Linked DNA regions of Homo sapiens. The protein of the gene in region 1 purifies or fractionates together with the protein of each later gene. This does not show direct contact. Each region holds a gene or a part of one and is shown in the gene's direction. Other genes may lie near its edges.

The links.
Region 2: the proteins of KIR3DL2 (region 1) and FBXO38 purify together in Homo sapiens (affinity purification with mass spectrometry; 2 studies listed by BioGRID and IntAct, with this or other methods). This does not show direct contact.
Region 3: the proteins of KIR3DL2 (region 1) and FAM114A2 purify together in Homo sapiens (affinity purification with mass spectrometry; 2 studies listed by BioGRID and IntAct, with this or other methods). This does not show direct contact.
Region 4: the proteins of KIR3DL2 (region 1) and LRP12 purify together in Homo sapiens (affinity purification with mass spectrometry; 2 studies listed by BioGRID and IntAct, with this or other methods). This does not show direct contact.

Annotation. Positions count from the first base shown.
Region 1 is NC_000019.10:54,846,260-54,853,456, forward strand, and holds the start of KIR3DL2 (killer cell immunoglobulin-like receptor 3DL2 isoform 1 precursor), read left to right. Parts: upstream 1-4,183; 5' UTR 4,184-4,216; coding exon 4,217-4,250; intron 4,251-4,960; coding exon 4,961-4,996; intron 4,997-5,738; coding exon 5,739-6,023; intron 6,024-7,197. Other genes in the region: KIR2DS4 (killer cell immunoglobulin-like receptor 2DS4 isoform 2 precursor), read left to right, coding at 925-951. UniProt on the Homo sapiens protein: Receptor on natural killer (NK) cells and T cells for MHC class I molecules. Upon binding of peptide-free HLA-F open conformer, negatively regulates NK and T cell effector functions. Acts as a receptor on astrocytes for HLA-F.
Region 2 is NC_000005.10:148,386,931-148,393,964, forward strand, and holds part of FBXO38 (F-box only protein 38), read left to right. Parts: intron 1-7,034. UniProt on the Homo sapiens protein: Substrate recognition component of a SCF (SKP1-CUL1-F-box protein) E3 ubiquitin-protein ligase complex which mediates the ubiquitination and subsequent proteasomal degradation of PDCD1/PD-1, thereby regulating T-cells-mediated immunity.
Region 3 is NC_000005.10:153,989,629-153,993,925, reverse strand, and holds the end of FAM114A2 (protein FAM114A2), read left to right. Parts: intron 1-815; coding exon 816-950; 3' UTR 951-3,778; downstream 3,779-4,297.
Region 4 is NC_000008.11:104,586,259-104,593,356, reverse strand, and holds the start of LRP12 (low-density lipoprotein receptor-related protein 12 isoform a precursor), read left to right. Parts: upstream 1-4,098; 5' UTR 4,099-4,459; coding exon 4,460-4,538; intron 4,539-7,098. UniProt on the Homo sapiens protein: Probable receptor, which may be involved in the internalization of lipophilic molecules and/or signal transduction. May act as a tumor suppressor.

The DNA of each region.
Region 1 (7,197 bases):
TTACATAGGCAGGTTCATTACTAACAGATAAGCAGCGAGTGACAACAGAAGCCTGCATTTCAATGTGAGCCAGTCCCTCAAGGCTCAGAAAAGCTGCTCGGGACATATGGAGTCACCCCATTTGCAGTGTAGCTGCGGGAAGCCAGAAAGCAGCCCAGCCTGGGTTTTGTACCCTGGAGCCACAGGAAGCACTCAGCTAAAGCACTGCATGACGTCCTCCTCCAGGAAGAACAGGAAGACAGCCCAGGCTGTTCTGAGACATTCCTCCTGATCTCAGGATGTTGCTATCTTAGTCCATTTTTGTTGCTCTAAAGGAACACTTGAGCCTGGGTAACTTCTAAAGAAAAGAGATTGGTTTGCCTCACAGTTCTGCAGGCTGTACTGGAAGCATGGCACCAGAATCTATTTCTCGTGACGGCCTCAGGCTGCTCCCACTCTGGCAGAAGGGAAGGAGGGTCTGTCTGTGCAGAGACCGCAGAGATCACACGGCAAGAGAGAGAGTAAGGGGGAGAGGGAGCGATGGAGCTTCCAAGCTCTTTTTAACAACCAGCTCTCCAGGAACTAACAGAGGGGGAACTTGCTAACCCCGTCTCCTTGGGACAGCATTGATCTGTTCATGATGGATCCACCTCCATGACCCAAACACCTCTGAAGAGGCCCAACCTCCCACAATGGGGGTGAAATTTCAATGTGAGGTTTGAAAGGGTCAAACATCTCAACTAAAGTAGTTGTATCCTCAGCACGTTCTATGGTTACTATGAGAGCTATAATTGAGAAAGCAGGGGAAAGCTAGGTCTCCCGCCATTTGGGTGCTTGTCCTAAAGAGACGTTGTATGTGGTTACCTGCCAATCAAGAAATGCGAGACAATTCATAAAGAGGAACTGCTATGATTAGCTTCTTATTGGTGTCTCCTCTTCTTCCAGGTAACCCCAGACACCTACATGTTCTGATTGGGACCTCAGTGGTCAAAATCCCTTTCACCATCCTCCTCTTCTTTCTCCTTCATCGCTGGTGCTCCGACAAAAAAAGTAAGTCTCACGAAGCAGAGGCCAGAGAGCTCAGGGCCATGTGGGGAAGCAGGATGGGAGCACGCGGATGTGTGTTCCTCACCAGCAGGATGGTCCCTGGCCCAAGACAGGAGCCACAGAGGCAGGACTTTCTAGAGAGAGCACCAGATTCCCTTCCCCTGCCTTCAGCTCACAGACCATTGCCTGATTCTGAACTGTATCCTCACGTCCCCTGCAGCCACTCACATCCAGGAGAAGGTTCCATGACAGGCAGAAAGTGGGAGATAGAATCAATGGGATGGGACCTCAGAGCTATTCATGGGATGGGTCCTTGAACTCAGAGAGATAGAATGTCTGAGTCTGCTGTTGGCAACTGAGGGACCTCAGGCACCTATGGCCTCCCCCTGTTTGTTGGTATCTGCTTATGAAATGAGGACCCAGAAGTGCCCTCCGAGCTCTTTTGTTGACTTCCGTCTTCTACAGATGCTGCTGTAATGGACCAAGAGCCTGCAGGGAACAGAACAGTGAACAGCGAGGTAGGTGCTCCTCCGCCCAGCCTCGTGGCTAGTCTTATTCCCAAAGAGTCCTGAAAAATGTGAGCACCCTCCCTCACTCAGCATTTCCCTCTCTCCAGGATTCTGATGAACAAGACCATCAGGAGGTGTCATACGCATAATTGGATCACTGTGTTTTCACACAGAGAAAAATCACTCGCCCTTCTGAGAGGCCCAAGACACCCCCAACAGATACCAGCATGTACATAGAACTTCCAAATGCTGAGCCCAGATCCAAAGTTGTCTTCTGTCCACGAGCACCACAGTCAGGCCTTGAGGGGATCTTCTAGGGAGACAACAGCCCTGTCTCAAAACCGGGTTGCCAGCTCCCATGTACCAGCAGCTGGAATCTGAAGGCATCAGTCTTCATCTTAGGGCATCGCTCTTCCTCACACCACGAATCTGAACATGCCTCTCTCTTGCTTACAAATGTCTAAGGTCCCCACTGCCTGCTGGAGAGAAAACACACTCCTTTGCTTAGCCCACAATTCTCCATTTCACTTGACCCCTGCCCACCTCTCCAACCTAACTGGCTTACTTCCTAGTCTACCTGAGGCTGCAATCACACTGAGGAACTCACAATTCCAAACATACAAGAGGCTGCCTCTTAACACAGCACTTAGACACGTGCTGTTCCACCTCCCTTCAGACTATCTTTCAGCCTTCTGCCAGCAGTAAAACTTATAAATTTTTTAAATAATTTCAATGTAGTTTTCCCGCCTTCAAATAAACATGTCTGCCCTCATGGTTTCGGTAACGAGACTCTTTTCTTGCCTAAGGCTTCCGGTGTTATCATTACCATGTCCACATAACCCCATCTGTTCTCCATTGGGTTCTCAGCCCTGGACTCTGAGCTTCTGGAAGCAGAATGGAGCCTGATTTGTCTCTGAGACTCCAATTTCCATCCAAAGATACAGCACATAGGAGGCTCCAAGGATCGTGAATCACATGAACAAGTGATATTCTTACTCTCTGCAGACCTGGAAAGCTGGCAGAGTCATTCCACGATGAAACATTTGTAGAGTCATAGGCCTTGTTAGTCTCATCTCCACGGGGACACATATCAACATATCATCTTTCATAATATAAATATACAGTCGGTCCTCCATATCTGTGGGGTTTACAGGTGTTTATTGAACCAACAATAAATCAAAAATATTTTCAGAAAAAAATCCCCGAAGTTTCAAGAAGCAAAAAACTATGTTGAATCGACACAAATTGAGTGGCGTGTAGGCTGTGTCAGGAATTATAAGTAATCAAGGGATGATTTCATGTATACAGGAGGATGTGCATGGGTTCTATGCAATTGCTATGCTATTTTTTTTTTTTTTTTGAGACAGTCTCACTCTCTCACCCAGGCTGGAGTGCAGTGGCATGATCTCAGCTCACTGCAACCTCCGCCTCCCAGGTTCAAGCGATTGTCTTCCCTCAGCCTCCCCAGTAGCCTCCCCTAGGATTACAGGCACGTGCCACCATGCACAGATAAATTTTTTTGTGTGTGTATTTTTAGTAGAGACGGGGTTTCAGAATGTTGGACCAGCTGGTCTTGAACTCCTGACCTCGTGATCTACCCAACTCAGCCTCCCAAAGTGCTGGGATTACAGGCGTGAGCCACGGTGCCCAGCTTCGCTATGCCATTTCATGCAAGGGGCTTGAGCATCTGCAGATTTTGGTATCTGAATGGGGATCCTGGAACCAATCACCCAGGAATAGTGAAGGACCACAGTATATAATTTTTATTTGTCAATCTTAAAAATAAAGCATAAAAAGTTTACAACAACAAGATAAAAAATAAGAAGTGTCTTTATAGTGTGAGGATAAGTTTAGATTTATTTTTTCCTACGTGTAACCCTATGGTCCTGTGTTATTTGTTGAGAAAATATTCTATTCCACCTTAAACTACATGGCAGCCTTTGTCAACTATAAAGGGACTGTGTATCCACAGATGTATTTTAGACACAGTTTTCTGCCCAGTGGTTCTCTGTATCCCCTCTCATGAGGATGCTGCATTTCATATAAACTTATAGAACCCCTTAAAATTTGGTAACCTGAGTTCTCTGATTTGTTATTATAGGTTATTTAGTTTGCTTTTTTTTTTCTTTCTTGAGACAGACTCTTCCTCTGTCACCCAAGCTGGAGTTCAGTGGCTTGAGCTCAGCTCACTGCAGCCTCCGCCTCCCAGGTTCAAGCAATTCTCGTGCCTCAGGTTTAGTACTAGAAACTCATCAGGAAAATTAGAATGGCTTTTTGTCACAATTACTCTGATAATGTTAATAATACCTCTTAGATATTTTGCACATTACACATGAAGAAAAGTTTGAATCTCAGATAAAAACAAAAATACATCAAAAGTCTTTAATGTAAGCACAGAATTCAATCACCTCATGTGTGAGAGGTTGGATCTGAGACGTCTTTTGAGTCTGGTCATAGTGAAGGATGCAAGGTGGCAATTGTAGTCACAACAATTTCCAGGAAGCCATGTTCCGCTCTTGAGCGAGCACCCACTGGGCCTCATGCAAGGTAGAAAGAGCCTGCGTACGTCACCCTCCCATGATGTGGTCAACATGTAAACTGCATGGGCAGGGCGCCAAATAACATCCTGTGCGCTGCTGAGCTGAGCTGGGGCGCGGCCTCCTGTCTGCACCGGCAGCACCATGTCGCTCACGGTCGTCAGCATGGCGTGCGTTGGTGAGTCCTGGAAGGGAATAGAGGGAGGGAGAGTGGGGATGGAGATCTCGGCCTAGAGGTAAAGATATGGGCCTGGAGTGGAGATATGGGCCTGGAGTGGAGATATGGGCCTGGGTGTGGAGATATGGGCCTGGAGGTGTAAATATGGGCCTGGAGTGGAGATATGGGCCTGGAGGGGAGATATGGGCCTGGGTGTGGAGATATGGGCCTGGAGTGGAGATACGGGCCTGGAGTGGAGATATGGGCCTGGAGTGGAGATATGGGCCTGCAGGTGGAGATCTGGGCCTGGAGTGGAGATATGGGCCTGGAGTGGAGATATGGGTCTGATGTGGAGATATGGGCCTGGAGTGGAGATATGGGCCTGGAGTGGAGATATGGGCCTAGAGGGGAGATCTGGGCCTGGAGTGGAGATATGGGTCTGATGTGGAGATATGGGCCTGGAGTGGAGATATGGGCCTGGAGTGGAGATAGGGGCCTGGAGTGGAGATATGGGCCTGGAGTGGAGATCTGGGCCAGGAAGTGTTGATCTGGGCCTGGAGCCTGGGTCTCTCCACAGCTGAGAGCCCTGTTCTTGGCAGCAGGTAGCAGGGAGGCTAAGTTTACCTTCAGCCCAGCAAGGGCCTGGCTGCCAAGACACACAGTGCAGTGGGGGCAGCAGGGTGCCCTGGTTTGCCTGCAGTTGGATCGTCTATCATGATCTTTCTTTCCAGGGTTCTTCTTGCTGCAGGGGGCCTGGCCACTCATGGGTGAGTCCGTCCCCAAACCTTAGGGTGTCATCTCCCCACATAAGAGGATTTTTCTGAAACAGGAGGGAAGTCCTGTCGGGGAGTCTCTCATAAACTAGGAAGAGGGGACCCTTGGATACTCGGCCCACATTTCTGACCTCGCCCTCCCTGGCCTTTCTTTCCCTTTCCTGAGTCAAGCTCTGTGAAGACTGGGGTGAGACTGGGGTGCTCCAAGCTGGGGTGTGCAGGGAGGAAGTGGTGTCAGCAGCAGAGAAAGAGAGGGAAGCAGTGCTAGGAACAGCAGGTCCTCTGAGGACAAAGGTATAACTGACACCCTCCAGCGTTTCCGTGACGGTAGGGGCTGCAGTGTGGCTGCGGTCTTTCTACCAGAAGAGGGGGGAAACCACAGCCATGGCCCTGACATTCCAAATCCTCTGAGGGGGCTCAGTTCATGAATTGGCTGATATTCCATTCACATAGGACATGCCCTCCATGCCGTGTCTACTTTGTGTTGTTTTATGTGAGTAATTTTGCAGTATTAAAATCTAGTAAGAGTCACTTATTCAGCACTTGCTCAAAGTTCTCAGCTGACACTTGTTGTAGGGAGACGCCATGTCTATGTGGGGTGGGTCCTTCCTGTAGCCCTGGGCACCCAGGTGTGGTAGGAGCCTTAGAAAGCGGAAATGGGAGAATCTTCTGAGCACAGGGAGGGAGGGGTGGCTCCACATCCTCCTCTCTAAGGCAGTGCCTCCTTCTCCCCCAGGTGGTCAGGACAAACCCTTCCTGTCTGCCCGGCCCAGCACTGTGGTGCCTCGAGGAGGACACGTGGCTCTTCAGTGTCACTATCGTCGTGGGTTTAACAATTTCATGCTGTACAAAGAAGACAGAAGCCACGTTCCCATCTTCCACGGCAGAATATTCCAGGAGAGCTTCATCATGGGCCCTGTGACCCCAGCACATGCAGGGACCTACAGATGTCGGGGTTCACGCCCACACTCCCTCACTGGGTGGTCGGCACCCAGCAACCCCCTGGTGATCATGGTCACAGGTCAGAGGCTTTCTGTCTGGGCTTCTCACTGTCCCACCTCCTGAATCCCAGAGCTTCTGGTGGGGGTGTCCATCAGGGTCCCATCACCCAGGCCCCAACTGTATTTGGGGTCAAGGGAGATTGAATACAGGGGAAATGGGTGCTGTGGTGGGAAGAATAACTGTCGCCAATGATGGCTACATTGTAAACCCTGGAGCCTGTGACTATTTATGTTATAGGGCAGGGGACTGAAGGGGAAGGTGGAGCTCAGGTTGTTGATGAGTTGACCTTGAGATGGGGAGACAGCCTGGACTGTCCTGCTGGGCTCAGTGTAATCACAAGGGTCCGCGTGAGAGGTGGAGGAAGAGGGGAGTGGGGATTAGAGCAGTGTAGTGGGAGGGAGACGCTATCAGCCACTGTGGGCTTTGAAGGTGGAGGAAGGCCACTAGTCACAGAATGCAGGTGGCCTCTAAGGGCTGGAGAAGTCAAGAGAACTGATTTGCTGAGTCTCCAGAGGGAACGCAGCCCTGCAGATGCCTTGATTTCAGCACAGGGAGAACTGGATCCAATTTCTGTCCCCAGAAGTGGAAGGGGTCAGTGTGTTCTCTCCTGCTGCCATGTTTGTGATAATTTTCTGCAGCAGCAACAGGAAACCGACACAGGAACCCAGGTCAAGGACAAGCTAGGAAACCAAACAAGGATAGCCAGGTGTGGTGGTGGGCACGAGTAATCCAACGACTGGGGAGGCTGAGGCAAGATAATCACTTGAACCGGGGAGGCAGAGGTTGCAGTGAGCCAAGACAACACCACTGCACTCCAGCCTGGGTGAAAAAGTGACTGTCTCAAAAATAAATTAATTAATCAATTAATTAAAGAAACCAAACAAGGAGAAGGTTGGCTACCGTGGGATCAGCAAGGGTGGGATGCTGATGCCACCACCAGGCTCCATCCACATAGGAAGGGGTTGATGCTCCTGGAACCAGCACCAGGGACCACCCTATGGAAGCTGGGGCCATGGAGAAGGCACAGACATGGCAGGAGAGGCTCCCAATCCCCATCAGGAACAGGGTGTGTGGACACTGATGTCTGCCTTACTGATGAGTTGATACCTCTGCCAGAGACTCCAATTTGTTCAAAAGAGATTGATTCAGGCTGCTGAGAGCCTGGACATGCAGCCTGTCCTCTTCCACCCCCA
Region 2 (7,034 bases), on another chromosome or scaffold:
TCTGAGCCTTCAGCGAGTCATAATATTTTTGTTAATGGAAGATCTTGTCTCTGTCTTGGTGGCTGCTGACTGATCAGGGTGGTGGTTGCAGAACATTGGGGTGGCTTGGCAGTTTCTTAGGACAACAGTGAAGTTTGCCTCATTGATTGGCTCTTCCTTCTAGGAAATATTTTGTTGTAACATGCGATGTATGATAGCATTTTACTCACAGTAGAACTTCTTTCAAAATTACATTCAGTTCTCTCAAACCCTGGTGCTGCCGTATCAACTGAGTTTATGTAGTATTCTAAATCCTTTGTTGTCATTTCAATAATGTTCACAGCATCTTCACCAGAAGTAGATTTCATCTCAACAAACCACTTTCTTTGTTCATCTATAAGAAGCAACTTCTCATCTGTTCAAGTTTTATCATGAGATTGCAGCAATTCAGTCACATCTTCAGGCTCTACATCCGATTGTAGTTCTCTTGCTATTTCCTCCACATCTGCAGCGACTTCCTCCACTGATGTCTTTTGTTGTTTATTATTTCAATCCTGCTCCTCCTATAACCACAGAAGTCTTGAATCCCTCAGAGTCATCCATGAGGACTGGATTCCAAACTCTTGTTAATGTTGATATTTTGACCTCCTCCCATGAATCACAGACGTTCTTAACAGCTTCTAGAATGTGTATCCTTTCCAGAAGGTTTTGAATTTAGTTTGCCCATATCCATCAGAGGAATCACAGTCTATGGCAGCTATAGCCTTAGGGAATTTATTTCTTTTTTTTTTTTTTTTTTTTGAGATGGAGTCTAGCTCTGTTACCAGGCTCGAGTGCAGTCGTACGATCTTGGCTCACTGCAACCTCTGACACCCTGGTTCAAGCAATTCTCCTGCCTCAGCCTCCCAGGTGGCTGGGATTACAGGCACATGCCACCACACCCAGCTAATTTTTGTATTTTCAGTAGAGATGGGGTTTCACTATGTTGGCCAGACTGGTCTCGAGCTCCTGACCTTGTGATCTGCCTGCCTCGGCCTCCCAAAGTGCTGGGATTACAGGTGTGAGCCACCGGGTCCAGCCAGGAAATTTGTTTCTTAAATAATATGACTTGAAAGTTGAAAGTTCTTGATCTAGTTGATCTATTAGCTGCAGAATGGATATTGTGTTAGCAGGCATGGAAACAATATTAATCTCCTTGTGTATCTAATGGACCTCTTGAATGACTAGGTCCATTGTCAATGAACAGTAATATTTTAAAAGGAAACTTTTCTGAGCAGTAGATCTTAGTAGAAGTCTTATTTAGTATACTATACTGTAAACAGATGTGCTGTCTTTCAGGCTTTGTTGTTCCTTTTATAGAGCACAGGCAGAGTAGATTTAGCATCATTCTGAAGGGCCCTAGGATTTTCAGAATGGTTAGTGAGCATTGGCTGCAACTTCATGTCACCAGCTGCATTCTCTAACAAGATAATCAGCCTGCCCTTTGAAGCTAGGCATTTACTTCTCCCTAGCAGTGAAAATCTGATATGGAATATTATTCCAATGGAAGGCTGTACGTACTGAAAATCTGTTGTGTAGTGTAGCTACTTTCAGCCGTTATCTAAGTTAGATCTTTTGGATAACTTGTTGCAGCTTCTCCATCAACATTTGCTGCTTCACCTTGTGCTTTTCCGCTATGGAGACAACGTCTTTCCATAAACTCATGAACCACCCTCTGCTAGCTTTCAACTTTTCTTCTAAAACTTCCTCACCTCTCTCGGCCTTCATAGAATTGCAGAGACTTAGGGCCTTGCTCTGGATTAGTCTTTGGCTTAGGGAATGTGGCTGGTTTGAACTTCTGTCCATAAAACTCAGACTTTGTGTATATCAGCAATAGGCTGTCTTGCTTTCTTATCATTTGTTTATTCACTGGAGTAACAATTTTCTCAAGAACTTTTTATTTGTGTTCACAACTTAGCTAATGTTTGGCACAAGAAGCCTAGCTTCTGGTCTGTCTTGGCTTTCAACATGACTTCCTCACTAAGGTTAGTCATTTCTTGGTTTTGATTTAAAGTGAGAGATGCTCAACTCTTCCTTTCACTTGAACACTTAGAGGCCGTTGTAGAGTTCTTAATTGGTCTAATTTAAATATCATTGTGTCTCAGGAAATAGGGAGGCCTAAGGAGAGGGACAGAGATAGGAAGAACAGCTAGCCAGTGGAGCAGTTAGAACGACACCATATTTATCAATCAAGTTTGCCATCTTATACAGCATGGTTTGTGGTACCTCCAAAACAATTAAAGTAGTAACATCAAAAATCACTGATCATAGATCACCGTAACACATATAATAATAATGAAAGGATATGAAATATTGTGAGAATTACCAAAATGTGACACACAGACATGAAGTGAGCATGTGCTGCTGGAAAAAGGGCACCAATAAACTTGCCTGACGCAGTGTTGCCACAGACCTTCAATTTGTGAAAGACACATTATCTTTGAAGCACAGTAAAGTGAATCACAATTAAGGTATACCTGTATTCACCTGTCCCTCATGCTCCATGACTTCTCAGCAAGACTTCCTCCAAGTCATCTTTCTCTAATGCCGATAACTGGACTTTCCCCTCCTTTACTCTTTCTTTTTTAACCTACTACTGCTTTGTACGTTCTCTGCATTACTGAGTTTCTCAAGTGAGTTGAAGGCAGGGTGTTTAGTGGCAAGTGGTATTTTGGAGGTAGGAGTGAGAAAAAAACACAAGGCTAGTGATGGCAGTTTTCTCCTCACTTTCTTTGGTTCCTCTTCCAACTAAAAAGAAAAGCAAATAAGAGAAAGGGTGCACATTAAAAAGGGATACCGGCCGGGCGTGGTGGCTCACGCCTGTAATCCCAGCACTTTGGGAGGCTGAGACGGGTGGGTCACTTGAGGTCAGGAGTTCGATAGCAGTCTGGCCAACATGGTGAAATGCCGTCTCTACTAAAAATACAAAAATTAGCCGGGTGTGGTGGCATACGCCTGTAGTCCCAGTTACTCGGGAGGCTGAGGTGGGAGAATTTCTTCAACCCAGGAGGCAGAAGTTGCAGTGAGCCAAGATCGCGCCATTGCACTCCAGCCTGGGCAACACAGCGAGACTCTGTCTTAAAGAAAAAAAAAAAAAAAGGTACCATCACCACTTACTTGGGACTTGTGGTGTGTGAATTTCAAGTGTTCTTTCTCATATAGGGAAACCAGGTCCCTATTCATCAGTACCTGAGATGAAATACTCAGCATAGCCCAGCTGGGTATTTCACTTAAATGAAGATGAAGCCAACTTTAGCTGAAGCAACTTTGTTGTCCTTTATCAAGACTGAGTAAGGGTGGGGGAAAATAAAATATTTTTTGACCGAGGAAGCTTTTTATCTCCTGAACATTTTCAGAGACATCTACTTGGACTTGAGAAGGCTGCTAGATTTCTCCAGGCTATAAGTCCTGTCAATCTCCTATATATAAGATAGAGATGTTTTCTTTTACCCTAGTGTTTATCTCCACAAGTTCCTTCCCCACGATAGGCTTAGGGTAGGGGCCTCACTATTCACCTGCCTGGTAAGAACTAAAAGACCCAAGTCTTCAATTCTAGCCGTGATGTAAGAAACAGGAATAGTTTTACCTAAAATTTTGTCAGTCCTGCTAATTTAAAATTTAGGCTTTTTGCTAGTTAGTGTTAAAGGATATTGTAGGTTAAGAAGGTTTTTGTCAGCTTCCTGGAGATCTAACCTCAGTATAATATTGTATAACATCATTTCTGTGAGTAAATATTTGTTAACTCTCAATAAGTGGAGTTTTATAAACTCAATGATATTTAAGGTGCAGGGTATTTAGTCTAAAAATTTACGTATAGTTTGTGCACTAGGGCTACTAAATCTAATTCACACAAAAGCACCACATTGCAGAATCCTAAGGAACAATCAAAGGTGGAATCAGTAGAGGAAGGTGTTATTAGGTGGTGTGAATTTGAGGAAGAAAAAGGAGGAAGAAGGGATTAAAAAAAAGCTTTTTATTAAAGGAATAAAGAATCGAGCATCATCTCGATGAAGGATTGTCAAGATTCTTAAAGCTGAACATGTGCTAAAGTATAACAACTGGTGGATTGGTCTGAGCATCTAGGTAATTTGTGGGTGGATTAGTCTTTGCTGGTTAATCGTCCTGTTGAGGCTTTTACATGCTACAGAGTAGCTGTTAGGTGTGTCACTGCAGTAAAATCTGATTGCATTATTGTCTAGGTTATAAGTTTGTTGCTGAGATCATTGAATGCTGTGGTAGCAAACGTCTCATAAGAGCATGAAATGGTTTTTAGCAGCAGCCTCGAAGCTACTGGATGTATATAGAATAATGGAAAGACTGGTGGATATTCATACATTAGATATTTGAGGATATATTGTGAGCAAGGACTTGTTGTCACCTAGAGGCAAGATTTTTTAGCAGAAACATGACTAATAAATCACTACACAAACTGCTGTGGAAGCATATGTTAAGTCCCACAGGGAGCTCAAATGAAGGAGTCAGTAGGGGAAGCTTTTACAGAGGACTTACATTTAAGCTAGATTTTTACAGGCAGTTTTCTAGGCAAAGTAGGGAAAAGAAGGACATTTCCAGTCAGAGTTAAAAGCATATTAGGAATGAAACACCAATGGTTGTTTGGGGGAACTAAGAAGATACTGGTCTGCTAGAGTGAGTATACTGAGAGCAAGTGGTAAGGATTGGAAGAAGATAAGATTGGAACATCTGGTGTTTTGAGATTAGATTGGAAATATTTTATCCTCTGAACCAGGATTCCTTGTAGGCCGATTGTTTTGTTTTGCTTGGCCATGTATATTGTACTTCTTAAAAACAATCTGAAAATTTCAAATGATGGAGAATAATATGAAGTGAAAAGTAAAAGTTTTTTTCTGCTTTCCTAAACCTCTGTTATCACTCCTCAAAGGTTACCGGTTAATATTTTGTTGTCTTCTTTCATAAAATGTTGTATGCAGACACAGTATATTTGTCTTTTTTATCATACTTTTTAAAAAAAGTTTTAGGGGGTAATCTTTTTAATTTTTAAAATTATGTTGTTGTTAGAATCATACTTTAGATGTAGTCTGTGTTTTGCTTTTTTCACTTAACACTATAAATCAGGAGACTGTTTTAAAAAGATAACTGGCTTCAGTATAGAGTATAGCATGGTAAGCATTTATTCAATAAATTACTTATGGCAGGCATAGTGTCTGCTAAGCTTTTCCTCGACCCTGAGGATACAGTGATGGGTATCATTTAGGAAGCCATTTCCGTAGTGCACGTGAATGTTAATGGAGTCCCAAAAGGTAATGGGAATGGATGTAAGAACTGTATTGAGATAAAATTGATAAAAATAGCCCATCAATTGTCTGTGGGAAATGAGAAATCAGAATATATTTAGGATGATTTCAAGGTTTACAATTCAGGAATTCAGTAAAACACATTAGGGAAATAGGTGTGTTTATTTGTATATATCTGTGTATCTTTGTTTTGGGGAGGGGGAGGGTTCGTGATATGAAGGAGTTCATTTTGAACATAGTGTTTTTGAAGGATGTTCAAGTTATTGAGGTGAAAATTTCTGATAGGCAGAGGAAATAAAGTTCAGAGCTCAGGAGAGGTAAGAAGTAGAGTTGGAAATTTTTTCTTTTTTTGCTTTTCTTTGTGTGTGTGTGTGTGTGTGTGTGTGTGTGTGTGTGTGTATTTGTAATAGCTAAATCCTTGGGAATGAGTACAATTGCCCAGGGAGAAGAGGGCTCGAGGATAAATTAGCAAAGGAGACTGAGCAGTGGTCATAGAGGAACGACAAGAATCGAGAATATCACTTTCGGAGCCAAAGGATGAGAGGGTTTCAAAGGAGTGGTCAGCGGTGTCCCATAATACAAATGGGTCAGATGGGGAAGCACTGGAAAGAGGCTATTGGATTTGTTGACTACATGTTCAATGTAACCTTAGAGGTTTCAGGAGCTATCATAAGATGGAAAGATTCATTTGGAGGAGGCAGGGCAGTAAACAAGAAAAGGTGGGCAGTGGTTAATCAGAAGCAGGTGAGTTTATTTATAGCTTTTCTTTTAGCTTGGGCAGTTCTGAGTATGAACTTTATTTTTCCGGAGGCCTCTTAGCCAAAATGTGATAGACAACATAGGAGTAAGCTTCTGAGAAGTTAAGACACATGTCACAAATTCAGGGTAGCATAGCCCATATACCAGTCCACACACATTGATTTCTCTGGTTTCTCAGGCCGTACTGGTTAGAAACAACAGAAGAGGGGTGTGTGTGTGTGTGTGTGTGTGTGTGTGTGTGTGTGTGTGTGTGTGATGAGAGGCAAGCATGCTGACAGCCTCAAGAAGTAAATAGCACATAACCTTTCAGTGAGGGAAGAAGAGACCAGAACACACACACACAGGCAGAAGAAATGATGAAGATTTACTTAGCCTAGTAGAGTGTCCATTTACTGCTGAGGCAAAAAAAACCTCAGGAACTGCATATACTTAAAGTACCCTCTGCCCACCAGGTGCCTTTCTCCTAGTGAGTTCTTTCCTACTTTTTGCAGTGTTAATTCCTGCTCTCCCTTCAGTTATGGGCTCAATTGTCTTTCCCTCAGGAGAACCATTAGTGACTCAGGCCCCTTTGTTATATGAGGCTTCACAACTGTGTTTACTGTCTTTGCAGCAGTTATCTCCGTGTGCAATTCTGAGCTCATTTGCGTGGTTATTTAATTGTGTATCTCCACTTAACTCTGGGCCGTTTGTTTACAATGGGCCCAGAGTACATAAGTGGTATTCAAAATAAATGTGCCAAGGCATATTTAAATGAATCTGAATGCACCTCTTTTCAGCTGTCATCCTGTGCCTCCTCCATCTACAAAGCCATTAATATAAAAGAGACCAATATTTCCTATAAACTTCCCTATATCTGTACCAACATTATTAAAATATTCCTAGACAATTTGACAATCAAGGTGTTAACTCCACATGCTGATCAATAGAACAGAAAACCATCTGGGTGCTCATGCAACCCATTTTCTCCCTGCTTTCCCTCTCCAT
Region 3 (4,297 bases), on another chromosome or scaffold:
TATCTGAGGTCCCTTTTGTGTGGGAAATTGAGTATTAAATGTCACACTGAATTTTAAATAGTACTTGCCATTGATAAATTTTAAAAAGGTAATATCACTTGATATGGGCTCCCTATTATTTTTAGTGGATTTTTTTTTTGGATACAGATTTGAAACACTCTTGTCTTCGAAATTATACATTTTTATCTTAATGAGCTCTCTGTTGATATTCTTTTGAAAGGTGAGGGCTTTTCAGTATAAATGAAGTCCAGCAAACTGAGGGTAATGATTCTCTAACACTTCTGAAAAATGTTGTTCAAGATAGAAATATATCTATACTGTCATCTTTGAAAGCAGTATATGTGTGAAAGATGTTTATGTGTGTGAGCAGTTATTGTGCTCACTGATCGCATTGAGTCCATGGAAAAAGAGCTATCATAATGGGCTAGAAATTCTATAGGTGTAGGATTTATAGCCTTCTGAAAGCCTCTTTCAGTAATTGACCACAATATTGTGACAGAATCTACCCTACTCAATAAAGGAATAAATAAGCTTTGAATGCCAAGTCTGACCATGTTGCCAAAGAAAAGCTACCATGTCTGATGGGCAAGTTGTACAAAATGCTGACATTCTCTTTTGGTGCTCATATCATCTTAAGAGCTAAATTCTTCTCCCTATAATAGAGTTTACCAAAATGGCCAAGTCACTGCTCTTACTTGCCAGGCTATGAATTCAGTTAGATTACAAAAATTAATCTGTTCCCCTGTTGCCTTACAGTATATCTTCTCTTTTAAATAACTAATATTTTCTTTTTCTTGTTTTTTCAATCCTGGCAGGCATCAAACAGTGCCTCCTACATCCAGGACGCCTTTCAGCTACTCTTACCTGTGCTAGAGATCTCTCTCATTGAGAACAAGATTGAATCACACAGACATGAGCTGCAGGGCCAGAAACCTTTGTTAGAACATTGAAGAATGGAGACGTTTTGACCTGGGACTTGTGACGGCCAAGGAATGCCACCTTATTCTGGCTACTCCTGCAGAAATGAAGGAGTGGGGTTATTTTAGTATATAAAAATTCAGGCAGGAGAGATGGTTTAAAGAGGAAGATTGTTGCCTTCAGTGTTTGATTGAAGTATTCAGGTTCTCACAGTATTCTTTCCAGTTGTTGTAATTCATAAATTATTTGAAAAGAAACTTTTGTAGAAAGTCCAAGAATAATAACTCTAGATAAAGATTAGTGGGACACTCAGGCAAAAATGTTGGTCTTTCTTTGACATGTTGCAAAATGTTATCAATTTTGTCATGGATATAATTTGCAGCCCATGGATATAACTGGTTGATAAGCCAGAGAAAAATAATTTAGTGTTCTAAAATTCATGGCATGTGTGGTTTATTAATGCCATGTACTTTCTCCTTTCTGGAATAAAATCTATGGCTTTAAGAAAACTGAGCATATGTAAACTCTGTGATGATTACCCTTTATCACATGAATTCTTGGAAATAGAAAGTTTCATCTGCTTTTTTAAATTCTTAGTAGATATTTGGCATTGAGGAGAAACTTGTAGACTATTATAGCCATGTGAATTAACTGTAGCAAAGTGCCCTTTTTCTTCAAATTGCTCCCCCTCCCCAGGATGACACACTTCATGTCATAGCTGAACCCTACTCTACTGGATTCAAGGCCAGTAAATGCAATTTAGAGAAGCAGTTTTATGTTTGCAGATATTCTGAGTCTCTTCAGGATGTGTTTCGTGTCTACCATATATGCAGGATAAATTCTTTAACAGCAAACTCCAAAGGAATGTTGAAGCTGTTTTAGCAATGAGGATTTTTTTGTTTGAGTGTTGAAGTGGGCCATAGTCCTTTAGAAATGATGTTCATTTATGATAGGATTTAACTTCTAAGGCATAGTTTATTTTTTCCTCTTTCCTTTTTGTTTGTTTTAATGTATTCTTTAGCATGTTTTTGATATAACTTTTATCCTCCAGATCTTAAGCTTTCTTTTGCTCTCTTCAGCAATTTAAGAGACTATTAAGCTGTCGTCTTCCTAAAAGCTATTTTGGTATCCACTCTTTTTAAAAAAATTCTCCAACTTTGTGGTTTTTTAATGATTAAGGTAATTTGTTAGCTCTGCCCCTCATCTTCTAAAACCTTTGTAATAAAATGTATTAATCATGTTATTTGATCCTTTCATTTACTTTTGTAAACACGAGCCCTAATATCTTACTTAGACCAAAAAAAAAAAAAAAAAATAGCAAAGCAAAGCCATAACATAGATTAGTATAAAGACTGTTTCTACGTAATCTTCTTTGGGGCAGGAGTCAGTTAGTAAGCAAGGAAGAGAAATAAATTTGGTTTAAAAAGGTATACCAACAGCACTACAATGTTACTCTGCCTATATTCTGTCTTAATATGATCAGAAAGTTTTTGAATATTCCTTTTTAAAGACAAATTTCACCCTTTCCAGCTTGAATATTTCTGAAGTTTCAGAAAAACAGTTGCCTTCTGGTTACAAAGGCTGGTGTCACCAGTTCTGAATTGTTGCCTCAAGCTTGGTTGATGTGTCTGAACCTGTATCCCTTGAGGGCAAAGTTTAGAAACTGGTCACTCTGCCTACTGTCTGTTCAGCCTCTTGTACAATGGCAGTTTGGCAGCTTTAAATCCTTAACCTAGAAATGTATTTAAGGTTTTTCTTTCAAGAAATGGGGTATACATATGAAGGAGAGAGTAACAACTCTTTTTATACACCTATTCAGATTTCAGCCCTGAATTTGGCAAATTTTAGATTAGGTCTCACATAAGGTAAATATGACTCACTAACTCTTTTTTTCTCATCTTCCCCACCCCCCCATATATATTTATTTATTTTAATGGAGTTAGGGACCACTAGTGAAATGATGAAAGGCCCAATTCTGAGTAACAATTGTCTACTCTTCACATAAAATATACTGAAAAAGAATTAAGATTCCTTGATCCAGTAGACATAGAGAAACATAAACATTCATGACAGATGAGTAGGTAAATTCAGGGATCACTTTGGAACTTGCTGGATTATGGTGATGGTTTTTGGATAGTATGTGCTTCATTATTTTATTTGGGGTAGTTACAGTGTTTTAGTTTTTTGTTAACAGCTACACTTTTGGTACTATTTTCCTTTTAAATTTTTGGTGTCTAAGATTTACCACTAATTACTAATATATGCCTTTCCAATTCACTTAAAACCTTAATAAGTGAAATGTTCAGGTATTGCTAGGGTAAATGTGTCTTTTCCTACTATTGAGATTTTAAAAGGCTGTGATTAAGAGAGACTTTATTAATTTGATCTGAAAGAAGTAGAAACCTCTATGAAACAATTTTTATTTTCCTTTGCATAATACCTTAGAAATGTGTTAAGGACAAGCTATATTTTCCTTACTTGCTTTTGATAGTTTTTTTTTTTTTTTTTAAGCATAGATATCCAGGTTGGCAGGCCTCTGAAATGTGAAATTGTAATTTTTATAGATGGCATTACTATGAATCTGAAATCAGTGCTAGGTGTACAAATGTGAATTTTTCAATCCTGTAATCAAAGAACAAGATCTTGTGGGTTCCTACTGCTGAAAAAGGATGCTTTCTTTTGTACTTGTTTTTAGTGAAAGACCTTTTTGAGGGAGAGCTATTTTATAGGTAGTTGCTATTGATATCTCCATTTGAGAAATAGACATTTTTCTGTATTTCTAGAGGTGTTCTGAATTTTAAACCTGAATTCTTCAGTTTAGAAAACCCAGAATAAAATTATACCCACAGTGGGCACTCAACAAGTGTGATATTTCACAAATGTCAGAGACTGAGCTGTTTTATTATCTCTTTGTGTGTGTGTGTGTGTGTGTGTGTGTGTGTGATGGAGTTTCACTCTTGTTGCCCAGGCTGGAGTGCAGTGGCGTGATCTCGGCTCACCGCAACCTCTGCCTCCTGGGTTCAAGTGATTGTCCTGCCTCAGCCTCCCGAGTAGCTGGGATTACAGGTGTGTGCCACCACACCTGGCTAATTTTGTATTTTTAGTAGAGACAGGGTTTTTCCATGTTGGTCAGGCTGGTCTGGAACTTCTGACCTCAGATGATGCCACCTGCCTCGGCCTCCCAAAGTGCTGGGATTACAGGCGTGAGCCACTGTGCCTGGCCCTTTTATTATTTCTTAACAACACATGATATCTCTTTTCATAAAAGACTTAAAAAGCATTTGAGAAATGAGAAAGTTCTAAAAATAATAAGCCTCTTAGTTAACATGTCATAAAGGCCTCTGGCAACTGTATGAAGAGAATTTTGAAAACTTGCCCA
Region 4 (7,098 bases), on another chromosome or scaffold:
AACTTAAACACAAAGTTATGTGCATTTTGAAACTTCGCAGTTAAACGACAACAAAAAAGCTCAGAGTATCTCTTTATATATGCCAATGTCTGTAGTTAATGCTCCCTTTACTTCTTTTTTCTTGGTGAGGGCAATTGTTTTCTACGTTTACAAGAGATAGATGTTATTACCACTATAAGTTATTGCATGCTCTATGGTCTGGTTTTACAATTAAGTTGAACTTATGAGGGAAAAACTAAATCTATTCGGATTTGGATTAGTTAATTTAGAGCCAGGATTATATATTTGACTACTTGGTACAATGGTGGGTATGCTGTCACAGCCCAGAATATTTAACCACAATAAATGTGCTAGTGAACTGGTTTAGAAGTTACCTAGATTGATGGATCTCATTTGCTAGCCTATATTATTCAACACCAATGGAAATTAGAATTCATTTGTAAAGGGATCTCATTTACTTAACTTCAATCTTAAAAAACTGTCTTTTTTTAGTTAGTTATATGTTTTTTCTCAAGTTTGTTTTTCTTTTTTAAACACAATATTCCTTTGAGGGGGAGTTAAAAGATGTAACTTTCTCTGGCAGCAGGCTGAATAGAAAACCCACTATCATCAATTTTCTTTCCAATAAAAGATGATTCTCAGAGTGGGAGTGATAATGCTCCCCAGTCTAACCTCAGTGTTGATGAGATTTTCAAATGCTACTAAATGAAGCAGAGTCTACATTAGGATGGAGCAAATTTTAATTGGTGACAAAAATTAGACCATTATATGTGATGATAGCCAAACAAGGAAAAAAGAGAAGTTTAAAATCAAACAAAAGGATTATTTAAGGGCATGTTTCCATAAAGTGGAAGATTGTAGCCCTTTTCAAAATATGTCAAGGGAAAAAGAAGCAGTCCCTGTACTGCTCCACTCCCAATTGCATGTACCTGAGGAGCTCCAGAACCACTTGGAAAAGGATTAAGCAGCAACTCAAATGGTTGCCTCATTCAGTTTTTCTCAAACTTTTAAGAAAACGGTTGACACAATATTTTAAGAATCTGCTGAAAATAATGTCTTCTCTCTATAAAAGTACATGAACACAAAATCTTCATATAATTTCAGAAGGCTTAAGATTCTTTGAAGCCCATCGGTGGATCCAGAGGACTCAGATTAAGAATGATATGGGTCTCAGGGGCATGATTTATGCTTTAAATCATGCAGTCCAGAACACTGGCCAAGCAAAATCAACTAGTAGTACAACTGCAATGGAATTGTTACCAATATTAACCACTGCATAGCTATAGTTTTCTGGATTTCAAAGTGCTTTCTCACAGATGAACAATTTGATGTATCAGCCCAGATGGCCAGCTAGGTAGATTAGGTGAGAGAAAGGGAGTAACGTTGAGTACCTATTCTGTGATGTGATGCTTATTAATGTCTGATATCCTACTATAACTGTTTTCAATAAATAAAAATGTTCCCTCAAAAAATATAAATACCCTTCACTGGTGAACATTGAGTACTTATTAGAGCCCTTCTAATAAAAAACAAAATACTTAGATTTTGAAGGCATTAAGGCAGACACCTAGATCTACATTTCTCAAAGTTTTTCTGGGGGTGGTGGGGGGTTAGCGGGGTGTCACTAAGACTATTTCAGGAAAGTACATGAGGTTCTCCCTTTGCCAATTTATATATTACATGAGTCTAGATTTTCTTCATATACTTCAACCAAAACAACATATTGCAACAGATTGGATGCAGAAGCAGATATGAGAATCCAGCTGTCTTCTATTAAACCAGCCATTAGGGAGATTTATAAAAGTGCAAAAACAAAGCCACTCTTCTTAACTTTTTGTGTTTGTTTTGGAAAGCAGAGTTATGTAAACTTGTAATGCATGTTTTATTTTAAATGAATTTAAAATAAATTCTTTTTTTTCTATTTTAATTTCTAAATGCTAAATATCAATAGCTATGACCCACATAAATAAAAGTTCTTTGGTGTCCTCACCAAATTGTAAGTGTTATGGGGGGTCCAGATACCCAAAAGTTTGATAACCTGGCAAGTCTGAGAAGACACATCTGGGTGGATGAGCAAGTGTAGGGGTGGGAGGGGTGTGACAGGAACTGATGAGGGCACTGTGTGTCTCGTGTTCGGGACAGGATTCCTTGAATGGTACTAAAAGTGGACAGGGGAGGATGCAGTCCAGTCTACTCCTTCACTCTGCTTGTGGCCTGTTCTTAACACAGCTCTCATGGAAGCGCAATTTAGAGAAAGCAATCTTAAGAAACAAGAAAGTAGAGTTTAGAATCCCAAAATTAGGAAAGACAACTGCAATTTGTTTAGTGAAAAACACTGAAGTTGCTTCTTTCCAACAAGAATGGAAAACATTTTTGGAGTGCTGGTTGCTTTTTTTACCAGATGATATAAGATTTGTTAATTATTAGATTTTTGTAATACTTATTAATACATTTTTCTCTTATCTTTTGGAATAGCATTTCCTGGTTTTAAAAAAAAAAACTTAAAAGGGGGCAAATCGGCAGGAGACTGAGGAAAAGCCTAAATGTATTCCCCAGAAAGTATGTTTTAAATTTTAACATTTACTTACTGAGAGGTGAGGCCAGCTGAACTTCCTGGGTCCAGTGGGGACTTGAGGAACTTTCCTGTCTTACAAGAGGATTGTAAAATGCACCAATCAGCGCTCTGTAAAATGCACCAATCAGCACTCTGTAAAACGCACCAATCAGCAGGATTCCAAAAGTAGCCAATCGCAGGGAGGATTGAAAGAGGGGCACTCCGATAGGACAGAAATGGAACATGGGAGGGGACCACAAGGGAATAAAAGCTGGCCACCACCAGCCAGCACCTGGGGTTCTCTTCCATGCTGTGGAAGCTGTCCTTTTGCTCTTCGCAATAAACCTTGCTACCGCTCACTCTTTGAGTCCGTGCCATCTTTAAGAGCTGTTAACAGTCACCGGGAAGGTCTGCAGCTTCATTCTTGAAGTCAGGGAGACCACGAACCCCCTGGCAGGCACCAACTCCGACACATTACTAGGCGCTAAGCATTGTGCTAGAGAGTTTGCTGTGGTATAGGGGCAACAATCTTTACTTTGGAATGAGAAAAACTGTTTCAAACAACTTACTTGCCATGAGTAATTTAATTTCTCTCTTTTCTATAAAACATGGGTAATATTTATCTCACAAGGATGTTTGGGATTAAAAAGTGACAACCTATGTCAATAGGACAGCATGATGCAGTGTAGGTCTTCAATGAATAGCATGGAGAGTGCTTGCAAAGGGCAACGATAAAATCTAATATAAATAAGACGTTGTAGACAAACGCTTTAAAAACACAGGGGGTAAGGTCTGATGTGCCAGCGTCACTACAGACGTACTTAGAAAAGTGTTCTGGGGATCTAAGTAAAGGAGGACTCCCATTTGCTGGGAGTGAGAAAAGAGCTTTAGGGAAACTGCAGCGTGATGGGCGAATCCTCCTTTCAATATATCTACCCTGAAAGTCGGCTCCAGCCCTGCCGAACATCCTGGCCCAGCTGCACCCGACCCAGCGTGAGATGTCAAATGACCTCTTGGCGCTTCCACGCCAGACTGGAGGGGCTCTGCACAAGCCTTGCCCGACTCATTCCGGGCACCTTGAGCGTGGGAGTCCACACTGCCCCTTGACCGACCAGCTGCCAGGTTGGCCGCACTAACTTGAGCCCACCCCCACTCGAAGCTCCGCGCCGACAGCAAGTGGAGACTTGGGGGTACCGGATAGAGGAAGGAACTCCCAAGTTGTCAGCTTCAGACCATCCACGCCTCCCCCAACACGGAACCACCTTCAGCCTCCCAGCTGGTATCCCACCCCCCCTCCCCCCACCCGCTGGGCCAGAGCCCAGCCCTCGGACAGCGACCGTGCTCCTCCACACACCCCGCGCTCCAGCCCCTGGGCATCCAGCAGCCGGCGTTCGCACGCTCTGTCATCGATTGGCGCTGCCTTGCTCCTTGGGCTCCCGTCGCGTGGAAATCGGCCCGAAACTTGGAAAGTCCAGCGGAGCGCGGGGAGGGAACCGAGGCAGGCGGGCCAGGGGATTGCCGATCGCACGGATGGGCGCGCGCTCAGTCTGGCGAGTGGCGGCGCCGGCTAGCCCGAGCGGCGCGAGGCCGGAGTCCGGCGTCCGCCACCCTCTCGTCTCGCGCTGGCGCGCGAGCTCCTTGCCCTTGCCCCCAGGAGGGCCGCCCCGCGTGGGGCTCTCGCACCGCCCGGGGTGGGAGCAGGCGAGCCGGAGGGAGGAGGGAGGAGGGAGCGCGCGCGGGCGGCGGCGGCCCCTCCCTTCCCCCTCCCGCAGCCGCGGAGAGCGCAGGGAGCAGCCGGTGGCTCGGCGGCGGCGGCGGCGGCGGCGGCGGCGTCGGCGTCGTCTACCTCCAGCTTCTCCTCCCTCCTCCTCCGTCTCCTCCTCTCTCTCTCCATCTGCTGTGGTTATGGCCTGTCGCTGGAGCACAAAAGAGTCTCCGCGGTGGAGGTCTGCGTTGCTCTTGCTTTTCCTCGCTGGGGTGTACGGTAAGTGTCCGCGTCCCCGCGCCCCGCTGACCGAACAAAGCTGAGGCGACCCGGGCCCCGAGGCCTCCAGGACGGGGGTTCCCCTGGAGACTCCCGCGGAGACCCTGGCTACCGGCGGGACAAAGACCGGTGAGGGGGTGGATGTGGCGGAACGGGTGTCCCCACACGGAGATGCTTTTCTCCACTCGTCCACCTCCAGACCCTCGGGTGGTGGAGAGGGGCTGGGGGGCCCGGCCGGGAGGGCCCCGGCGGAGCGAGGGGGTGGCGGGCGGACTTCCCGACCTGGGTTCGAGGGCCCCCGCGGCCAGTTGCTCCAGGACCCGTAGCCTGGCACAATCCACACACAAAGATGCTTGACTGTGAGAAAGCAGAGGAGCTCGCCCCCGCCGCTGCCGGGACGGTCCTTCCCCCCGCCCCCTCAACCCGGGGTTAGGAAGTTCTCTCACCGGCGAGATTCCCACCGCGCCAGCCCTTGTCCTACTCGATTCCCTGAAAAGGCTTCCCGCTGACTTCTCCCCACTCCACCTCGGGGGCAAGGGCTCTGCCGAATCCGGGCGTGCAGGGTCCTGTTGGTTCCCCGGGAGCAGCACGCGGGAGAAGGCCAGAAAATAGTTTCCAGCCCCACCTCAGTCTCTCCTGTTAGGGTGTACACATCTGTCCTGACTCCTAGTTCAATTGTAATTTCATCCATCCTCGTCCGCCGCTGTGGTCACTGTTACTTTATTCCAGTCGATGGATCGGGTTAGAGATAACTCCTTTCGGGTTAAGAGAAGGCTGAAGACTGTGCGGACAGCTTTATATTGCGTTGGGGTCTGAGCAAGAGCTGAATGGAATTAATTGCAAAGAACATCTATCTCTTAAGATAATTAAGTTACACTTCTGACTTCACCGTTCTTAGTTCATCAGTTAAACACACTGAATAGGTATTTCAGAGAGCTCAGTTTTAACCTTTCCTTTTTGGAGTGTTGCTCTGATTTCTCCAGAAAAAGAATTAGAAGATATCATTACTTTGGTAAATTTTACTTATAAAAAGTCTAATTCATTTGCCACAAACATTGATTTGACTAGTATAATGGTGGTGGTGGTGAGGTTTAGTCAACAGCCAATTTGTCAGCAAGTGTTATCTCTTTTGAAGGCATTTATCTACGGAATTGAATGTGATGGTGGCTTTTGAAACCTGGCAAGTGACGCTAAATGAAGAATTAATGAACGTAATTGGGCATTTACTGACAGCCAAGAAATTCTTTTTGGTACAATTAAGGATGTGTTGCTCCCGTACCTGATTAGTAGTATTTTTGTTTGTTTTGGTGAGGAGAGTAGTTTGGTCCATTTTTTATGTAGGGGTAATTGCCAGAGGTGTGCTTGTGTGGGACCAAAAACCCAGTACACGACTTTTGATTGTTAGCTGCATCAAGTGGCTGTAATCCCTGCTTGCCTGATGACTTGTGGGTTTGGGTCTACACCAGAGATCAATAAGCTATTACGTTGTTTCTTCTGCCCTGAAGGTGGGTATAGTTCTGCTCTAGGTTTGGTGTAATGGCCCAGGAGAGAGAAGAAATTGAGAGGTATCTTTAATTTAGGGTGATTAGGATTGTCCAGCTTTGTCCTCTACTATAATAAGCATTGAATTTCTGTGATGTCCGATCAGAATAGATAAATAAATGGGCTCTTCTTTCATTAAAACCTGTGTCATCAGTGTTTGAACTAGAAGTCTTTTGCCTCGAGGGATAAGAGGCTGTGAACCCCTCAATTTGTTTTGGTGCATTCTTTAGTACTTGTACACAAAGTGACTTTCTGGTAGGTGCCTATCAAAGCTTTTATCTTTTTGGAATTTGTGTTCAGTGAGGAACACAAATTGTTAGTAAGCAAAGACTGAAACTCCTTTTTCCAACAGTGTGGGCCGCAGATTATAAAACCAGCAGGTGATTATGCCAAAGGTTGATGTCTCAAGCCACAGCAGGTTTCAAAGTGTAAAAAAAAAAAGGAGGTAGTGAACCAGGCAGAACATTAAACTATATCAGCAGAGATTAAAGGGAACCCTTCACCCTGGAACTGAGAAATCCTCTTTATGGCTGCATGTTTTTTGTCCTCTTCTGTCTCTAACCATATGTGGGTTTATAATAGTGAAAAAGGGCTGTAACAATAGTATGGGGTGGATGTGGTTCTATAACAATAGTGGGAATTGAGTAACTTAGAATATATAGTAGTTGTAATGGGTGGTGGATGCATCCTGAGAAATAGCTGTCGCCTTGAGCCTGTTAGAACAGATACTAGCTGTAATTTATGAAACTGTCCTCTATACAGTAAAAAGTGTGTGTGTGTTTTAAAAGGCTTCAAAAATAATTAGCTCTGTTAATGAAACTGAATATTCACAATCACTGTTAACAAAGAAAAGCAGGTTGATTGGCCAATATTTAGGGAACTCCAATATTAATTCTTCACAGAGTGACTCTTAAATGAAATGACTCTAAGGTGTGCTTCAGATTTTTGAAACATTTCACATACATAAAAAAATTTTTTGTTGTTTATTTTGGTGCTACTTTCCAGATGACGATTTTAT